2 separate regions of the Homo sapiens genome follow, and region 2 is linked to region 1. A link means that fine-mapping ties the variant in region 1 to the expression of a gene that starts in the linked region. Tissue or cell type: whole blood. Region 1 holds a variant in brackets; the other region holds the start of a gene. All regions are shown on one strand. Distances are between the middles of the regions.

What was found. PIP is the estimated chance that this variant, and not a neighbour inherited with it, causes the effect.
Region 2: it holds the start of GADD45B, and the variant in region 1 is fine-mapped to the expression of GADD45B in whole blood (TOPMed, PIP above 0.99).

The regions. Positions count from the first base shown.
Region 1 is chr19:2,625,718-2,633,817 of GRCh38, reverse strand. The region is part of intron 2 of GNG7 (G protein subunit gamma 7); the gene reads left to right. It overlaps MIR7850 (microRNA 7850), which reads right to left and starts at 3,103; the gene lies at 3,025-3,103. RefSeq lists an enhancer at 5,638-6,837. The variant G/A (reference allele first, on the strand shown) is at 3,810.
Region 2 is chr19:2,472,399-2,480,498 of GRCh38, reverse strand. GADD45B (growth arrest and DNA damage inducible beta) reads right to left here and starts at 4,372. Exons shown (of 4, transcript NM_015675.4): 1 at 4,097-4,372; 2 at 3,869-3,970; 3 at 3,248-3,470; 4 at 2,242-3,011. The coding sequence starts at 4,140. The coding sequence ends at 2,898. RefSeq lists enhancers at 57-556, 642-701, 557-1,058, 1,622-1,731, 2,122-2,171 and 8 more and silencers at 972-1,551, 5,112-5,221, 5,592-5,731.

The DNA of each region.
Region 1 (8,100 bases):
AGTGCCGGGGGGAGAAGGCCCGGTGCAGAAGAACCTGCCTCCCGGGTGAGTTGAGAGCAGGCTTCTGTCCTCTTCTGGACAGAATTACTACAGCTCCCACTCAAGCCCCGGTAAACAGACACCCGTTTTCAAGCCCACCGATGTCCTCTCAATGAATCCCCGTTTCAGAGCTGTTATTGCGACCACCTGACTCTACTGATTGAGGCTCCATACCCAGAGAGGCTCACATCCACGACCACCGAGCCCGGGGATCTGAGTACCCCAGCCCAGTGTGCAGACCACAGCCACCTCTCGTGTGTGTGTGTGTGTGTGTGTGTGTGTGTGTGTGTGCGCGCGCGCGCGCGCGCCTGTTGCTAAGCAACCGCTTGAACAGTCAGCCTCCCACAGAACGAGGGATGAGGCACCAACTTGGTCATCGGCAGATTCATCGAGCCTTGGCCGCCTTTGACTCAAAATACACACGGCGGTGACAGTCGCATATGATGAGATGCTGGGGGCAGGGGACATGGGGGAGCCGAGTGGAGGCCAGAGAGGATGGCTCTGCCAATCTGTGGCTTGACCTTGACCCTCTCTGACCCTCTACAGCAGGGGTCAGAGTCCATTGCCCAGGACAGCAATGATGAGGCCCGTTGGATGCTAATTTTCCTCCCATCCGCTTCATCGTTTTAGTGAACCAGCACCCACCTGCAGGGCCCCTGCCAGGCTAACACCCTCGGATCTCTGCGCAGACACTCCCGGTGCCGCCTGGGGATGCGTGTCATAGATGGTTAAGGTGCAGCCTGGGGAGGCCCAAGGTGGGGTCTGTTGAGAAGTTAGGGGCCTGGTAGAGGGGCCCCCTGTCCCACCAGCAGGGTTCAAGGGGCTGAGGGCTCCTGAGCAGACATGGGCCAGGCAGAGGCCCAGGCGGGTGCCCCAGTGCAGAGCCCACTGTGGCTGGATGAGCCTCGTAATGACTTCATGTTAGAGCCTCAGCTTTACTTATTTATTATTTTTATCGGACATGGATCTGAATTATTATTCTTATATTCTTGTTATTATTATTATTTTAGAGTCAGAGTCTCACTCTGTTGCCCAGGTGCGAGTGCAGTGGTGCGATCATAGCTCAGTGTAACTAAGGGGTGCTCCTGGCAGGGAGTGGGTGGAGGCCAGGGACTCTGCTCAGCACCCTGCAGTGCCAGGGCAGCCTCACCCCAGAGATGGATCCAGTCCCGATGTCCACAGTGCTGACGGTGAGAGACTTCCCTGTAGAGTAGAAAGTCTCTGTTCGTCAGCTGTTTTTACAATTCCCAGTCTGTTTTCTGTGTGCGTGTGTGTGTGTGTGTGTGTGTGTGTGTGTGTGTGTGAGTTTTGTTTATAGCAGGTTGGGTTTTTTTGTTTTTTTTTTTTTTGAGATGGAGTTTCACTCTTGTCTCCCAGGCTAGAATGCAATAGCATAATCTCGGCTCACTGCAACCTCCACCTCCCGGGTTCAAGCAATTCTCCTGCCTCAGCCTCCCAAGTAGCTGGGATTACAGGTGCCTGACACCACGCCTGGCTAATTTTTGTATTTTTAGTAGAGACGGGTTTCACCATGTTGGTCAGGCTGGTCTCGAACTCCTGACCTCAAGTGATCCACCTGCCTCTGCCTCCCAAAGTGCTGGGATTACAGGCATGATCCCACACAGCGCCAGGCCAGGAGTCTTACCTTTCTAGGAGGCAGAGTTTATCTGTTCTTTTGGGGCTCCTTTCTCTAGAGAATGGGGGAGAGGGCAGCACCAGGGTGATGATGTCCCCGCAGAACAGGCCGTCACGGGATTAGCCTAGTCGATGCTAGTTGTCCTTATTGGAGATCTTGGGGAGACGCCCTGAAAATGCTGTAGTCTGCCTTGGCTGGTTCAACGTCCTTTCACCCCTTTTCTCTCTTCCTCTTTCAGAAATGGCACTTCTAGGGTCAGTCGGCTTCATTTTAGAAGTTAGCAAAAGAAGGAAAAAACTGCTAAAGCCGGGGTCGAAAACTGTGGCCCCCAGGCCAAGTCCCCCATCTAGTTCCTGTTTTTATAAATAAAGTTTTATTGGCATACAGCCACAGACATGCTGTGCCCCCACCCCAGGCCCAGTCTGGCCCTCCACTTCCTGTTTTTATAAATGAAGTTTTATTGGCACACAGCCACAGACAAACTGCAGCTCCCTGGGCCAAGTTCCCCCCTCCACTCCCTGTTTGTATAAATAAAGTTTTATTGGCACACAGCCACAGACATACTGCAGGTCCCTGGGCCAAGTTCTCTGTTCCACTTCCTGTTTTTATGAATAAAGTTTTATTGGCACACGGCCACAGACATTCATTTACCTGTCATCAGTGACTGCTTTCATACTACAAGGACAGAGCTCAGTGGCCTTTTGCAGAAAAGGTTTGCTGACCCTCAGCCTAGAGGCCTTGAGTTATCTGATTTCATCTCATAACCACTCGTGAGGAAAGAATGATCGTCACTGGACAGATAAGGATGCTGAGACCTAGCGAGGTTAAGTGGCTTCATGAGGTGACATAACCAGCAGTTTAGGGCTTGGGCTCCCAACTCTGCCACCTACTGGCTCTGTGACCCTGGGCCATCTCTGTGCTTTTCTGAACCTCAATGCCCTCGTCTGTGAAAGGGGGGAGAATAGGCAGTGCCTGCCTCTCAAGGGGTTAATGCATGTCAAGCTGTCTAATACTAAATGCACCATTCTTCCTCTGGTCTTCATGCCTGCTATGCCTCCTCAGCCCCACACAGTGCTGTTGAGACAATCAGATAATGTCATAGTCATTAGACCTTTTTGATGATATACTCAGACATACTCAGGAGGAAACTGCTGAGTTGCTTGGCTGATTGTGGAGGGACATGATGTCCAAACCCTTGTGTATGAATAAGTTTGAAAGCTGACCATAAAATCCCAGAATGCTCTAGTCTGCAGCACATAAAGAGTGTATTAGCTAGCTATGGCTGCGTAACAACTACCATGAATGCAGTAGCTTAGAGTGACACCCATTTATTATCTCATGGTTCCATAGGTCAGAAGTTTGGATGTAGTGTGGCTGGGTAAGACCCTGCACAGAGGACCCAGCCACACTATGTCCAAACTTCTGACCTCGGAGATGTGAGCCAGGGCTGCATTCTCATCCGAAGGTTTGTGTGGTGACGGATCCCCTTCCAAGCTCATTCCAGGCTCATTCAGAATTCAGTTCTTTGTGGTTGATAGACTGTTTCTGTTGCGTTGTTAGCTGTCAGGAGGGGGCAACTCTCAGCTCTTTGAGGCCACTCTCAGGCCACTTGGCCTTCTCCATAGGCCCCTCATGCTTCCAGGCTCTCATTTCAGGAAAGGCCCAATCCCTTTTAAAGGGTCACCTGATTAGACCAGGCCCACCTAGGATAATCGCCCTTTCAGTGAACTCAAGGTCAACTGATTTAGGACCTTATTTACCTCTTCAAAATCCCTTCTTTCCTGAAAAGCAACCTAATCAGGGGAGTGATATCTCATCATGTCCACGGGCCCTGCCCACACTCAAGGGGAGGGGGTTCTACAAGATATGTTCTCCAGGGAGATCTTAGACTCCTCTTGGTGGCAAAGGGAAGGGGGGGCCTGCGTTCGGCCTCAGCCAGGACCGAATCAGCAGGACCTTCACTCCCTTTTTCTGGCGTCCATCCCTTCCTCTTGCAGGAGTACTGCCAGGTCTTTGGGGAGAGGGTGGGGGTTATTGGGAGAAAGGAGGCATTTGGAAAGTAGGTGGCAGGCTGTGTCCCAGTTACACCTAAATGTGTCTCCACTTATTAAAAAAAAAAAACAACCTTTATTTT[G/A]AAATCATTACAGATTCAGAGGAAGTTGCAAAAATCACACAGAGCAAAAAACATCACATGTATCTTCACAGTTTCCCCCAGTGGTGACATCTTACGTAACCATAGTACAAAACCAGGAAATGGACCCTGGCACCATGTATGTGCAAAGCTCTGTGCCCTTTCGCACACATGCAGACTCGGCTTCACCTTATTTATGGGTGTGCAGGAACATTAAGTGTCCATAAATGTGGACGGAGCTCCTCTTACTCGTGGGCATGGGGTCAGAGGGAGGCGGGAGTACAACCAAACAAAACCATCTAGACTTTGACCGTTGATGTGGGTGCCAGGTTCCAATCACCGTGTGCCCCCACACTGCGTTCAGGGCTACGCTCTTCTGTCTTCTCCCACTAGTCTGTGAGTCTGTGAGGTCTTGTCCACTACCTCTTTAGGCAGCCAGCCCTTCTGGTGGGCTTTGTCGTGGGGAGGGGGTGGCACTAGGTGTGTTCTGGGGCTCCTAGCACTAGAAGACTTGTTTCAAATCCAGAAGCACCTCCTATTCGTGTGGGCGCCCAGGCAACTTACCTGACCCGTCTGTGACTCTGTGTCCTTGGGGACCTCCTATTCTAAACACAAGAGCGTGGCCTGCTGTCACCGTCACCATCCTGGCATCTGCAGAAGAGCCACCAAGCGCTGCCTCCTGAGAATTTCTGGAAGGAGGAGATGACTGGTAGAGTGGAAAGTTATTGAAAGGGACATTTGGAGTTCTTTCCAAGGGACATAACCCATCTCCCAATATCCCCTATCCATTTGCTCAACCTTCAGAGAGACCTACTAAGATATCCAGTTGTTCACCTCAAGTCTTCAACTTTCCCCAAAGTTCTTTGCTGTTTTCTCTGTGCCTTGCACAGAGCCTGATGCATAGTACGTGCTCCTTGGGGGCCACTTTGTGTGTGTTTCCTACTAATGGCACCTACAGCAGCAATGGCCACCATGTCTTTTACAGCTACAGTCCTAGGCAGAATTCCAAGATGGCGCCCAAGACCCCCACCGCCTGGTGCCCACATCTTATCTAATCCCCTGCACTTGAGGATGGGCTGGACCTGCGAATACGATGGGGTGTCACTCCAGTGGTTAGGTTAATGCAGTTAGGTCGTGTGTTCGGTAAAGGGATTTTGCAGATGCGACGAAGATTCCTAGTCAGTTGACCTGAGCTCATCAAAAAGGAGACATCCTGGGTGGGCCTGACCTCATCAGGTGAGCCCATAAAAGAGACCAGAAGCACATCCCGAGGTGTCAAATTCAGAGAGACAGAAGGGAGAATGGTGGGTGCTAGGGGCTGGGGGAGGGAAGAGGGGAGCTGTTGTTCAGTGGATACAGTGTCTCAGTTTTACAAGATGGAAGGTTCTGGAGAGCCATTGCACAGCAGTGTGAGTATACTTAACATCACTGAACCGTACACATAAACGTGGTTAAGATGATCCGTCTTATGTTATATATATATATACACACACACACACACACCACAGTTGAAAGAAAGAGAGAAAGGGAAGGGGTTTCTTGCCTTAAAGAAAGCAAACAGCTATGTCGTGAGCTGCCTGTGGAGGGTCCATGTGGCAGACACCTGAGAGTAGCCTCTAGGGGCTCAGAGCACTCACATCCAACAGCCAGTAGGTAAACAGGGACCTCATTCCTAGAGCTGCAAGGAAATGAATTCTGCCGATAACCAAACTAGCTCAGAAGAGGACCCCAAATTCCAGATGACAACTCGGCCCAGCCCATACCTTGATTTTAGGCTTATAAGACTCTGAGCGGGGGACCCAGTTAAGCCAGACTCTTGACACACAGAAGTTGTGAGATGGCAAATGGTGTCTTTGTTGCCGCTGTTGTTACTCAGCAGTAGCTGACTCATACACTTGCCGTGTTGTTTGCCATGTTGAGATTGAGATAATGATCTCCACTTCACATAGGAGAAAACAGTAGCTGAGAGGGGCTGACGTGCCCAGGGTCACATGGCAACTGTGTTGTGATCATCACATTAACTGTGCCTGTCACCTGGGCCGGACCGTCACCTCCTTCATTAAGATCAGGGATCTGGTCCAAGTCTTCACCAGATGTTTACTGAGTGAGTGAAAGAAACAAAGAATGAAGGTGCTGGGACCGATCCTCACCTGACCTCCTGCACACAGGTGAGTCTGTGTCTGCGACCAGGACCAGTGACACCATAGGACACTGAGTGAAATCTCGAGAACATAACTGTGAGGCTCAGAAGGAGTAGTCAGCACATGCAACTCCCCGGGCTGAGTCAGCTGCCGGTGTTGAGGTCGGAGCTGATCAGCCTCCTGGAATGTGACATGCTGTACCCTGACTAATATTCCGGCTGAATCAGAGCTTTGCTCGTAATGAGAGGCAAGTCTCGAGCCAGTCACCCTCTGGCCCATGTGAGACTGGGAATTCAGAATCAGCCGGGAGTGACAGAAAGCCAGGTCTGGCTGGCACGCCTGGGTGGGTGTTTACAGCACGCGGGCTGCCAGCTGTGACCAGCTCTGAAGGGAGCCAGGGCCAGAGGATGCAGGTGCAGAGGACAGGCGCCCGGAGGAAGTGGGAGGAGAGGCGGCCACAGGGCTGGGGCCCCACTCTGGGTGCCCCTGGAGCCATGCAGGGGGTGGGTTCACCCCCTTACCGCCATTTAACATGTGAGGTGGATCGTTCTCTGGGGTGGGTCATCCTGGGCACTGCAGGGTGCTGACAGTGTCCCTGGCCTCCACCAACTCCATGCCAGGAGCACCCCCAGTCATGACAACCACAAATATCCCCAGACATCACCCAGCGTCCCCTGGGACAGAAACACCTTGGTTGAGACCCTCTGGGATAGAAGATTCCACAGACCCCAAGAGATTCTGCATCCCATGATCCTCTGCCCTGCGGAGGTCCCAGGAGGCTGCACACATTGAAATCCACACCTGAGTGGGAAGAGAGAGAGGAGATGAGTCCCAGGAGCTGGGGCTCCCGGGTTTATGCCGTCTGCTCCATCTGGAGTTTATTCCAGTGTCTGGTGTGAGTAGGGAGGACACTCAGTTTATTCCCAAATAATTAAAGCAGGTCTCTCCCCCTGGGCACTGTGGACACTGACACTGGACTGTTCTCTGGGGTGAGGCCGTCCTGGGCACTGCAGGGTGCTGAGCAGCATCCCTGGCCTCCACCCACTCCATGCCAGGAGCATGGACCGATGTGAGGGAATATTAGTCAGGGAAGGTCCCACTTCCCTCCGTCATGACAATTACAGATGTCCCCCGACACCGCCCAGTGTCCCCTGAGGGGACAGAATTACCCCAGTTGAGACCCTGATTGAGTGAACCGATGAAGACAACACCGCCCAAGAGTGAAAGCAGGTGCCCACACCAGGAGCTTTGTTCGGGAATTCAGGGAGGGCTTCCTGGAGGAAGTGACATGAGTTGAGTGTTGCTAGTGCCCTGAAGGTGACAGGTGGGGTGGGGGATACAGGTGCAGAGATGGTTCCAGGACCTTGAAAAGGTGAGAGGGAGGGAGTGAGGAGGCCGCACGGCAGAGGCTGCATTTTATCCCGAGGGCAGGAGGGAGCCATAGCGGGTTCCGGCTCCACCCATGACAACAATCAATTGGTTTGGGTCCAGCCTCCCTGTGTGACAGATTAGGAAACTGAGGCACAGAGGGGGTGAGAGATGCCCCAGCCTCCTGTGGGTGGCAGAGATCCCGGTGGGTTTCCACGGTGCCGCTGGTCAGGCTGGTTTGGGGCAGGGGGCCGGCTTCAGGCCTGGGGCGGGAGCAGCATCAGCTTCACGTTCCCGCTGGAGACACGGGGTCAGGTGGGCACCCGCGGTCACTCTCTGCTTCTGTTTGGTAAAATGGGGGGTGATCACCACCCCTGCAGTCCAGGGTTGCTGCAGGGAGTAAATGAAATAATCAGGCCGGGCGCCATGGCTCACGCCTGTCATCCCAGCACTTTGGGAGGCCGAGGCGGGTGGATCACCTGAGGTCAGGAGTTCGAGACCAGCCTGGCCAACATAGTGAAACCCCATCTCTACTAAAAATACAAAAATTAGCCAGGCGTGGTGGTGGGCGCCTGTAATCCTAGCTACTTGGGAGGCTGAGGCAGGAGAATCGCTTGAACCCGGGAGGCGGAGTTGCGGTGAGCATCAGTGAGCAGTCCAGCCTGGGCGACAGAGTGAGACTCCGCCTCAAAAACAAAACAAAAACAAAAACAAACAAAAAACCCCAAAACCAAAATAATCAGCTCTGAAGTCCTTGTCTTGTGCCCAGCACGGTGAGGGCGCTA
Region 2 (8,100 bases), 150 kb after region 1:
AAGTGCTCCTCCCGCCTCAGGCTCCCAAGTAGCTGGGACCACAGGCCCACACCACCATGCCCAGCTAATTTTTAAATTTTTTTGTAGAGATCTGGATCTCTCTATGTTTGCCCATGCTGGTCTCAAACTCCTGGGTTCAGGGATTCCTCCCCACCTCCCCCAAGCCTCCCAAAGTCTTGGGATTACAGAGAGTGAGCCACAGGGCCGGCCCAGGAATCTATATATCATTTAACCTCCTCAACAATCTATGAGCTAGGTAGCATTATCCCCCATTTTTCAGAGGGAGAAACTGAGGCACAGACAGGTGAAGGTCCTGGCTGAGGGTCCCACCACTGGGGCCCCTCCATGCCCTGTCTCCACTTGGGGCTCAGGAGCCTGAGATCCTGCTGCACAGTTCTAGAGACCGAGGAGCAAGAATGGAACAATCCGGATGGAGACAGACCATCCGATCCCCGGGGGCATAGCCCTCCGAGCTGGCCTCGCCTCCCTACCCTACGAGGTTGACCAACGAAGAGCCAGAGACTGGGAGCGGTGGCTCAGACCTGTAATCTCAGCATTTTGCAGGCCAAGTCGGGCGTGAGGTCAGGAGTTTGAGACCAGTCTGGCCAACATGGTGAAACCCCATCTCTACTAAAAATACAAAAACTAGTGGGTGTGGTAGTGGGTCCTTGTGGTCCCAGCTACTCAGGAGAATCGCTTGAACCCAGGAGGTGGAGGCTGCAGGGAGGCGAGATCGTGCCACTGCACTCCAGCCTGGGCGATGGAGTGAGACTGTCTCAAAAGAAAGAAAAAGAAAAGCCAGAGCTTTTCCAGGCCGCCGCTAGGCGCACCCTTGCCCCACCTGGTCCTTCCCCACCTGGAGCCCCCTTGGGTTTTGGCCCCACATGTTCTCCCGCACCCCAATCCCTCAAGAGCCCCTCGCCCTCTGTCACTCTTCCCAGGTGCCCTCCCCTCTTGGGCTCCATCTCAGGGATCCCCACTCCATCACCCCCTACCCCCTCGGGGCTCCCGCCTCTTCGCCTCCATTCTCCCCTCCCCCAACCCCTTCGGGACTCCTACCTGTCTACCCCCCTCCCGGGGTTTCCCTGTTGGTTCAGGGCTGTGGGGGATTCCCCTTCCCCTTCTTGGGCTCCCCTCTCCCCACTTCAGTTCTCCCCTCCTCCTAGCCCCAGGCGGGATCCTCTCCCCTCCCCGCTTCTCCCTCTGGGACTTCCCCCTCCTTCTCTCTCTCCCTCCCCCGTCGGGGCTCCCCCGATCCCCGTGACTCCTAGGGAGCCGCTGGGGTTTTCCTCATGCGCCCACGTGAGGCTCCGTGGAAAGGTCGCGGCCTGCGGGCAGGACCACCCCACCCCCTCCCCACTCCCCCCTAGTTCCCAGGCTTGGGGGCTGCAGGGCAGAGGGGAACCGAGGTCGTCCCGGCGCCTGGCCAGGGCGGGCCCACTCTGCAGACCCGGGGCGGGAAGACTGAGGCCGGGCACGGAAGGGCTGGGCCACGCTCCCAGCCCGGGGCAGGGGGAGTCACCACCGCGCCTGCAACTTTGGGAGAAGTAGGAGGTGGCTGGCCAGGGCTCGCAGTTTCGGTTTACAGGCAAAACGCAGCACTGCGCCAAGCCCGGCTGGCCCGGAGGCCGACTTCCTGGGGTATTTTTCTGCTTGTTGATTTTAGTTTGCGGAAATAAAAAAAGTTTTTTTCTTTAGTGCAAAAGAGAGGCCTATCCTGGGATGGAGAAGGCTGTGGTGGGCTGGGGGGGCACTCCCTGGGGAAGCCTCCAAAAGCGCTCTTCCTTGCAAGCCCTGAGCTCACCTCGCTGTGTGGTACCAGGTGCCCCCTTGACCGATCCGGACCTTGGGCTGCGGTGGCCGCCTAGGCGGTCAGGGGCTGCAGCCAGCACCCCCTCCCGCTGAAATGCCTCCATATGTGCCCAGAGCTTGGGGTTGGCTCCTGCACAGCCAGTAACAGTGGTGGCACGGCGGCCAGGTTTCGTAATAAACCGGTCTCTTAATTGCTGCAGGGTAGGAGGAGAAGGAAAAAAAAAAAGAGGCATAGATTTGTTGGAGTCGGTGGCGGCGCCTGCTGCGGAGAGAAGGGGTACTGTTTCTGCACGGGAGCCTGGAGCTGCTAACAGGGGCTTAAGTAACACTTCCTGGTGAGCTGGCGGGGGTTGTGGGGGGTGAAGCGTGTCCCCGGGGAGGGGGCAGGGGTCCTAGTTGTTCTAGAAGCCGAAAACATACAAGCAACCAGAGGCTTTAGAAATTTATTACAAGGCCCTCATAGTAGAAATAAAAATATAGATATCTATGCTTCCCATCTCGCTCTCAGTGGTTCGAATAACAAGTGCAAGTAACAAAATAGATTGTCTCTATAATTCGCAAACTGGGAGTTCATGGGTACAGAGCAACTTCAGCCCCAGCTCCCAAGTCCCAAAGTGTGGTCTTGTCGAGGGTGCAGACAAGGACCAACCAAGTTCAACCAAGTCTCTCGTATGCAGACGCCAGCTCCAGTCTCAAGGAGGGTGGGGCTTGCAGTCAGTCTCACTCCACCCCCGAGTGGACAGTCTGGACCCTCCGTGATGGGGAAGGCGGCAGCGTGCCCCGCCACTCCGGCTTCTGCTCCATCCCAAGGCCTCAGCTTCGGGGGTCCTGTCTCCTGCTGGCCTGGGTCCCCCCTTCTCCATCGGATCGGCGGCCGCCAGCTCCTGGATCTCCGCCCTGGGGGCGGCCGCTCACTCCCCTTCTCCTCCTCCTCTTCCTCTTCAGTCTCCAACGACTCTGCCCCCGATGGTCCTCGTGGGTTGGGTTGTTTTGGGGGGGTTGTGCTGGGGGGGAGGGGGTTCAAATATTTATTGTATTTTTTGTTTGTGGCAGCAACTCAACAGATTCTGCTGCTGGGAAGGGCCTCAGCGTTCCTGAAGAGAGATGTAGGGGACCCACTGGTTGTTGCCCCGGCTTTCTTCGCAGTAGCTGGCCACCTCCACCAAGCCGTGGCTCTTCCAGGCGTCCGTGTGAGGGTTCTGTAGGAGGGAAAAGAAGGGGTTTAGTGGAGCCTCCCTCTCCCGGGGCCCCTGTGTGGGGAAAACAGTCAGGCTCAAAATAGCTTCCTGGGTGAGGAGGCCCCAGCCCGGCTGCCCACGGGACATGCCAAACGTGGCTGAGCGCTGAGCTGTGCAGGACCAGTCAGCCCGACTTTGTTGACAAACACCGGCCCAGGTGCCCGGGCGTGGCGGGGCAGGGCAGAGGCCCGACTCACCGTGACCAGGAGACAATGCAGGTCTCGGGCCTCGGTGGTGCCCTGGGTCTCGGCCGGCTCTCCCAGGAGCTGCGCCAGGCGCTGCATGCCCGACACCCGCACGATGTTGATGTCGTTGTCACAGCAGAAGGACTGGATGAGCGTGAAGTGGATTTGCAGGGCGATGTCATCCTCCTCCTCCTCGTCAATGGCCAAGAGGCAGAGGACCACGCTGTCTGGGTCCCTGAGGGGGCCAAAGGGTAGGGATGGGTCAGCCGGGGACAGGGGAGGGGCCACCGTGCAGGGGGAGTTTGCAAAAAAGGAGCGTGCAAGAGCAAAAGAGAAACTGCAAGGGTGCAGGGGATTGCCTCTGCAAGCTGGTGACGGTGGGGGGAGGGGAGGGCACACGGTTCAAAGTATGGGGTAGGGGGAGACAGGCCCACGGCGGGAGGGGTGTTTGCAGACGATACATCAGGATACGGCAGCCCCCGATCCACAAAACGGCAGAGAAGCTCTGCATCCACAGCGGGGGGCACTTGGGGAAGTCCCAGCTCCATGCAAGACAAGCGTGCGGAAAGCGTCCAGAGCGGAGGGGAGGTCCCGTCCCACCCGCGCCCAGCCCGGGAAGGGGGTCTGACTCACACATTCATCAACTTGGCCGACTCGTACACCCCCACTGTGAGGCGATCCTGGCGCTGAGCGGCCACCAAAAGCTCCTCCACCGCGGCGGTCACCGTCTGCATCCTGAGACCAGGAAAGAGGGATCAGTGACGGGCGGACCACCGGGTGCTACGTTCCGCTCCCGGCCCGGCCCAACCCGACCCATCCCGTCCCGGCTGACCTCAGGCGGCGGCAGCCCCGGCTACTTACTTCTGCGCCGCGTTGTCGCACGCCACGAGCTCTTCCAGCGTCATGTTGCAATTATAATCCACAGTGGATGCGGCTCCACGGCAGTCCCCAGGGAGAAATTGCAAAATCCGAGCCAGAGAGCCCAAAACCTTCCCACAGAGCTAGAGCGCTCGTCCAAGACCTTCGGGAAGCAGCGAAATCCTTCCAGAAAAGGCGGAAAAATATATTGCAAAGTCCTTGGCGAGGATAATCCAGGAAGTTGCGGAAACCAACGGTAGTCCGACGCTTCGGCGATCTGAGCTGGGAGCCTCCGGCACCGACTTTTATAGACTTGAACATTGGGCGTGGCCTCAGTGGAGTCATTCGCCCCTCCTATTGGTGGAAAGACAAGGGCGAGTGCAGCTAGCTCTGCGGTTGGCCGACGGAGGGGAGGGGGAGGAGCGGCGTGCGGGGGCGCCCCACGTGGGGGCGAGAACCGGGAGGAGGGCGCGCGGGGGCCGGGTAGGTGACCGCGAATGCCAGAAAAGAAAAAAAAGCAGAAGTTTTTTTCTCCTGATTTCCCGGCAGCCGAGCCGCGGTTCGGGGCGCGCGCGGGATTTCCAGCGCGCGAGGCGGCCCGGACTTTCGGGGGGGCCTGGAATCCCCTCCCGATCCGCGGAGAGTCCCGGACCGCGCCTTTCCCAAGTTCTGCTGGGGGTGGAGGGGCTGCACCGGGAAGGGGCCCCGTTTGCAGCGTGATCTCGCCCAGGTGGTGGTGAGGGCCGGAGTCTCTCCTGGCTGCGACGACCCCAGCCCCTGGGTGATTTCGCTTCTCCCGGCCTCTCTGTTCCCGTCTGAGTAATGGGTCTGCAGCGCCGGCCTCGCTGGTTTGCAGAGCATGGCATAAAATACGGCTGACAGTAAGAGCCCAATACACATCAGCTGTCACCTGGTGGTCGCGGGAGGCCTCCTCGAGGGCCCCGAAAGTGGGAGGTTGCAAAGCCCGGGGCGCTCTGGAGAAGAAAGTGGGCGCCTCCTCGCCGACCCCGCGAGTATCAGGGTGGGGTGCGCGTGGGAGGTGCAGGTGGCGCGGCCCCGCCCCCGCCGGCTGCCTGGCGTTCCAGCCTTTGCCCGTGCGGAGGCCTCCAGGCCCTGGAGAAAGCCATTGTTGAGGGGAATGGTGCAGGCTCCGGCTGCACGCCGCCACCCAGGGCCCACGTGCAAGGATGACGGCTACTTTTATTTCTCACTCCGGGGTGGGCGCTGACCTGCATTGAGTGCGTGGTGCGGACCTGGTACCCCCCACCCCTCCGGATTCATGGATGATTTAATCCAAGACCTGGGAAGCAGGGGGGATGCTTATGTGCATTATGCAAAAGGGGAAACTGAGGCTTGGTGAGGCCATAGGCTAGTTCGTGTTGGAGCCACGCGTGTGCGCCAGGCACGGCCGCCTGCAGGACTCCGCCGCCCCGGGAAGGCTGTTCAGGAGCGAGGCTGGCAGGCCCCGCATGACAACGTCTCCCACGGTCGACTGGGGGCTCCCGGGTGACTCACATCTGAGTCCCCTCCCCCGCCAGCCTGGGGTCTGGCCTCCGCCCGGCGGCTCACTTTCCCCAGTTGCCCGGCTCCCCGGCCCGCGGGTCCGGCTGACGCATCCCACCTCCTCCGCGCCGCCCACCGCTGGGGCACGAAATGTCCCGGGGCTGCGAGGCGCGGTGGCGCCATCTGGTGGCCGCGCCGAGTTTCTGCGCCCTCAGCGCCGGAAGAGAGGGACGGACGGGCGGGGCACTGGGCTGGAGGCGGGGGATAAGGGGACCGTGGCGGTTGCAACGTTTTATGTAACTTTATGCAATGTTTTACGCATGCAACATACATATTTATATTTTATAATTTCAATTTAAAAGTTAAATCGGCCGGGCGCGGTGGCTTACGCCTGTAATCCCAGCACTTTGGGAGTCCGAGGCGGGCGGATCAACTGAGGTCAGGAGTTCGAGACCAACCTGACCAACATGGCCAACATGAGCTGAAGATAAGGAAGATCAGGGAGGTGGGTGGGATAAGTGCAAAGTCAGATTCTGTCTTTATTTACAATTTTGATATTTTGTTCCTCATGGATACTTGGGCATTGATTTTGATTTTTAAAAAGTATTGCAGGCTGGGTAATCCCAGCACATTAGGAGGCTGAGGCGGGCAGATCGTGAGGTCAGTTCGAGACCAGCCTGACCAACATGGTGAAACCCTGTCTCTACTAAAAACACAAAAATTAGCTGGGCGTGGTGGCACGCGCCTGTAATCCCAGCTTACTCAGGAGGCTGAGGCAGGAGTATCACTTGAACCCAGGAGGTGGAGGTTGCAGTGAGCCGAGATCATGCCACTGCACATGGCATGGTGACAGAGAGAGACTCCATCCTCCCCAAAACAAACAAACAAACAAACAAACAAACAAAAAGGCCGGGCACGGTAGCTCACTCCTGTAATCCCAGCACTTGGGGAGTCTGAGGCAGGAGGATCACCTGAGGCTGGGAATTCAAGACCAGCCTGACCAACCTGGAGAAACCCCATCTCTACTAAAAATACAAAATCAGTCGGGCGTGGTGGCACATGCCTGTAATCCCAGCTACTCTGGGGGCTGAGGCAGGAGAATTGCTTGAACTTGGGAGGCAGAGGTTGCAGTAAGCCGAGATTGCAGTGAGCCGAGATCGTGCCACTGCACTCCAGCCTGAGTGACAGAGTGAGACTCAGTCTTTAAAAAAAAAAAAAAGAAAGAAAGAATGGGGTGTGTTGTGTGCACCCAGCTACTCCGGAGGCTGAGACAGGAGGATCACTTGAGCCCAGGGGTTCCTGGCTGCAGTGAGCCGGGATTGCACAGTTGCATTCCAGCCTGGGCAACAGAGTGAGACCCCGTCTCAAATAAATAAATAAAATAAGGGCTGGGCACGGTGGCTCATGCCTGTAATCCCAGCACTTTGGGAGGCTGAGGCAGGTGGATCATCTGGGGTCAGGAGTTCAAAACCAACCTGGCCAACATGGTGAAACCCCGTCTCTACAAAAAATACAAAAATTACCTGGGCATGGTGGCACATGCCTATAATCCCAGCTACTCGGGAGGCTGAGGCAGGAGAATCGCTTGAACCCGGGAGGTGGAGGTTGCAGTGAGCCGAGATTGCACCACTGCATTCCAGCCTGGGAGACAGAGCGAGACACTGTGTCAAAAATAAAGCAAATAAAATAAATAAAATAAGGCGAGCAAAGCAGGGCCTCAGAGAATATGTGTCCAAGTCCTTCTTCCGTGTGTCCCCCGTGCCAGCCATAACAACCTCCTCTGCGAGAGGCCCAGCCTTTGTCAGCTGTTTCCTCCGCCTGGGATGCTGTCTTCCTCTGGTCTTCAGCAGGAAAACCCTACTCCTCTGTCAACACTGACTTGGCCTTGTTTTCTCCCAGACTGACTGCCTGGACCCCCATGGTCCTCCACCCTCCAGGCTTCTCTTTCTAGACCCCAAGCCCACCTGTGCCTCCTTTTTCCAGCCCTGGCTCCAGGCATCTTAGAATATCTGGAGTATCTTGGAATATCTTCAAGAGACTCTGAGCTCTGTGCCTTTGAGCTCAGAAAATGAGCTCCAGCCGGGCCAGGCGTGGTGGCTCATGCCTGTAATCCCAGCATGTTGGGAGGCCGAGGCGGGTGGATCACCCGAGGTCAGGAGTTCAAGACCAGCCTGGCCAGCATGGTGAAACTCCATCTCTACTAAAAATATAAAAATTAGCCAGGCATGGTGGCGCATGCCTGTAGTCCCAGCTACTCAGGAGGCTGAGGCAGGAGAATCGCTTGAACTCGGGAGGTGGAGGTTGCAATGAGCCGAGATCGTGCCACTGCACTCCAGCCTGGACAACAAGAGTGAGACTCTTTCTCAAAAAAAAAAAAAAAAAGAAAATGAGCTCCAGCCTCAGTTTCTTTCTCTGTAAGATGGGAACAGTCACACAAAGGCTTCATCACAGGCATTGAAGGAGGAAATTCCCAGAATCAGGTAAGCACTCAGGAAATGTGTGCT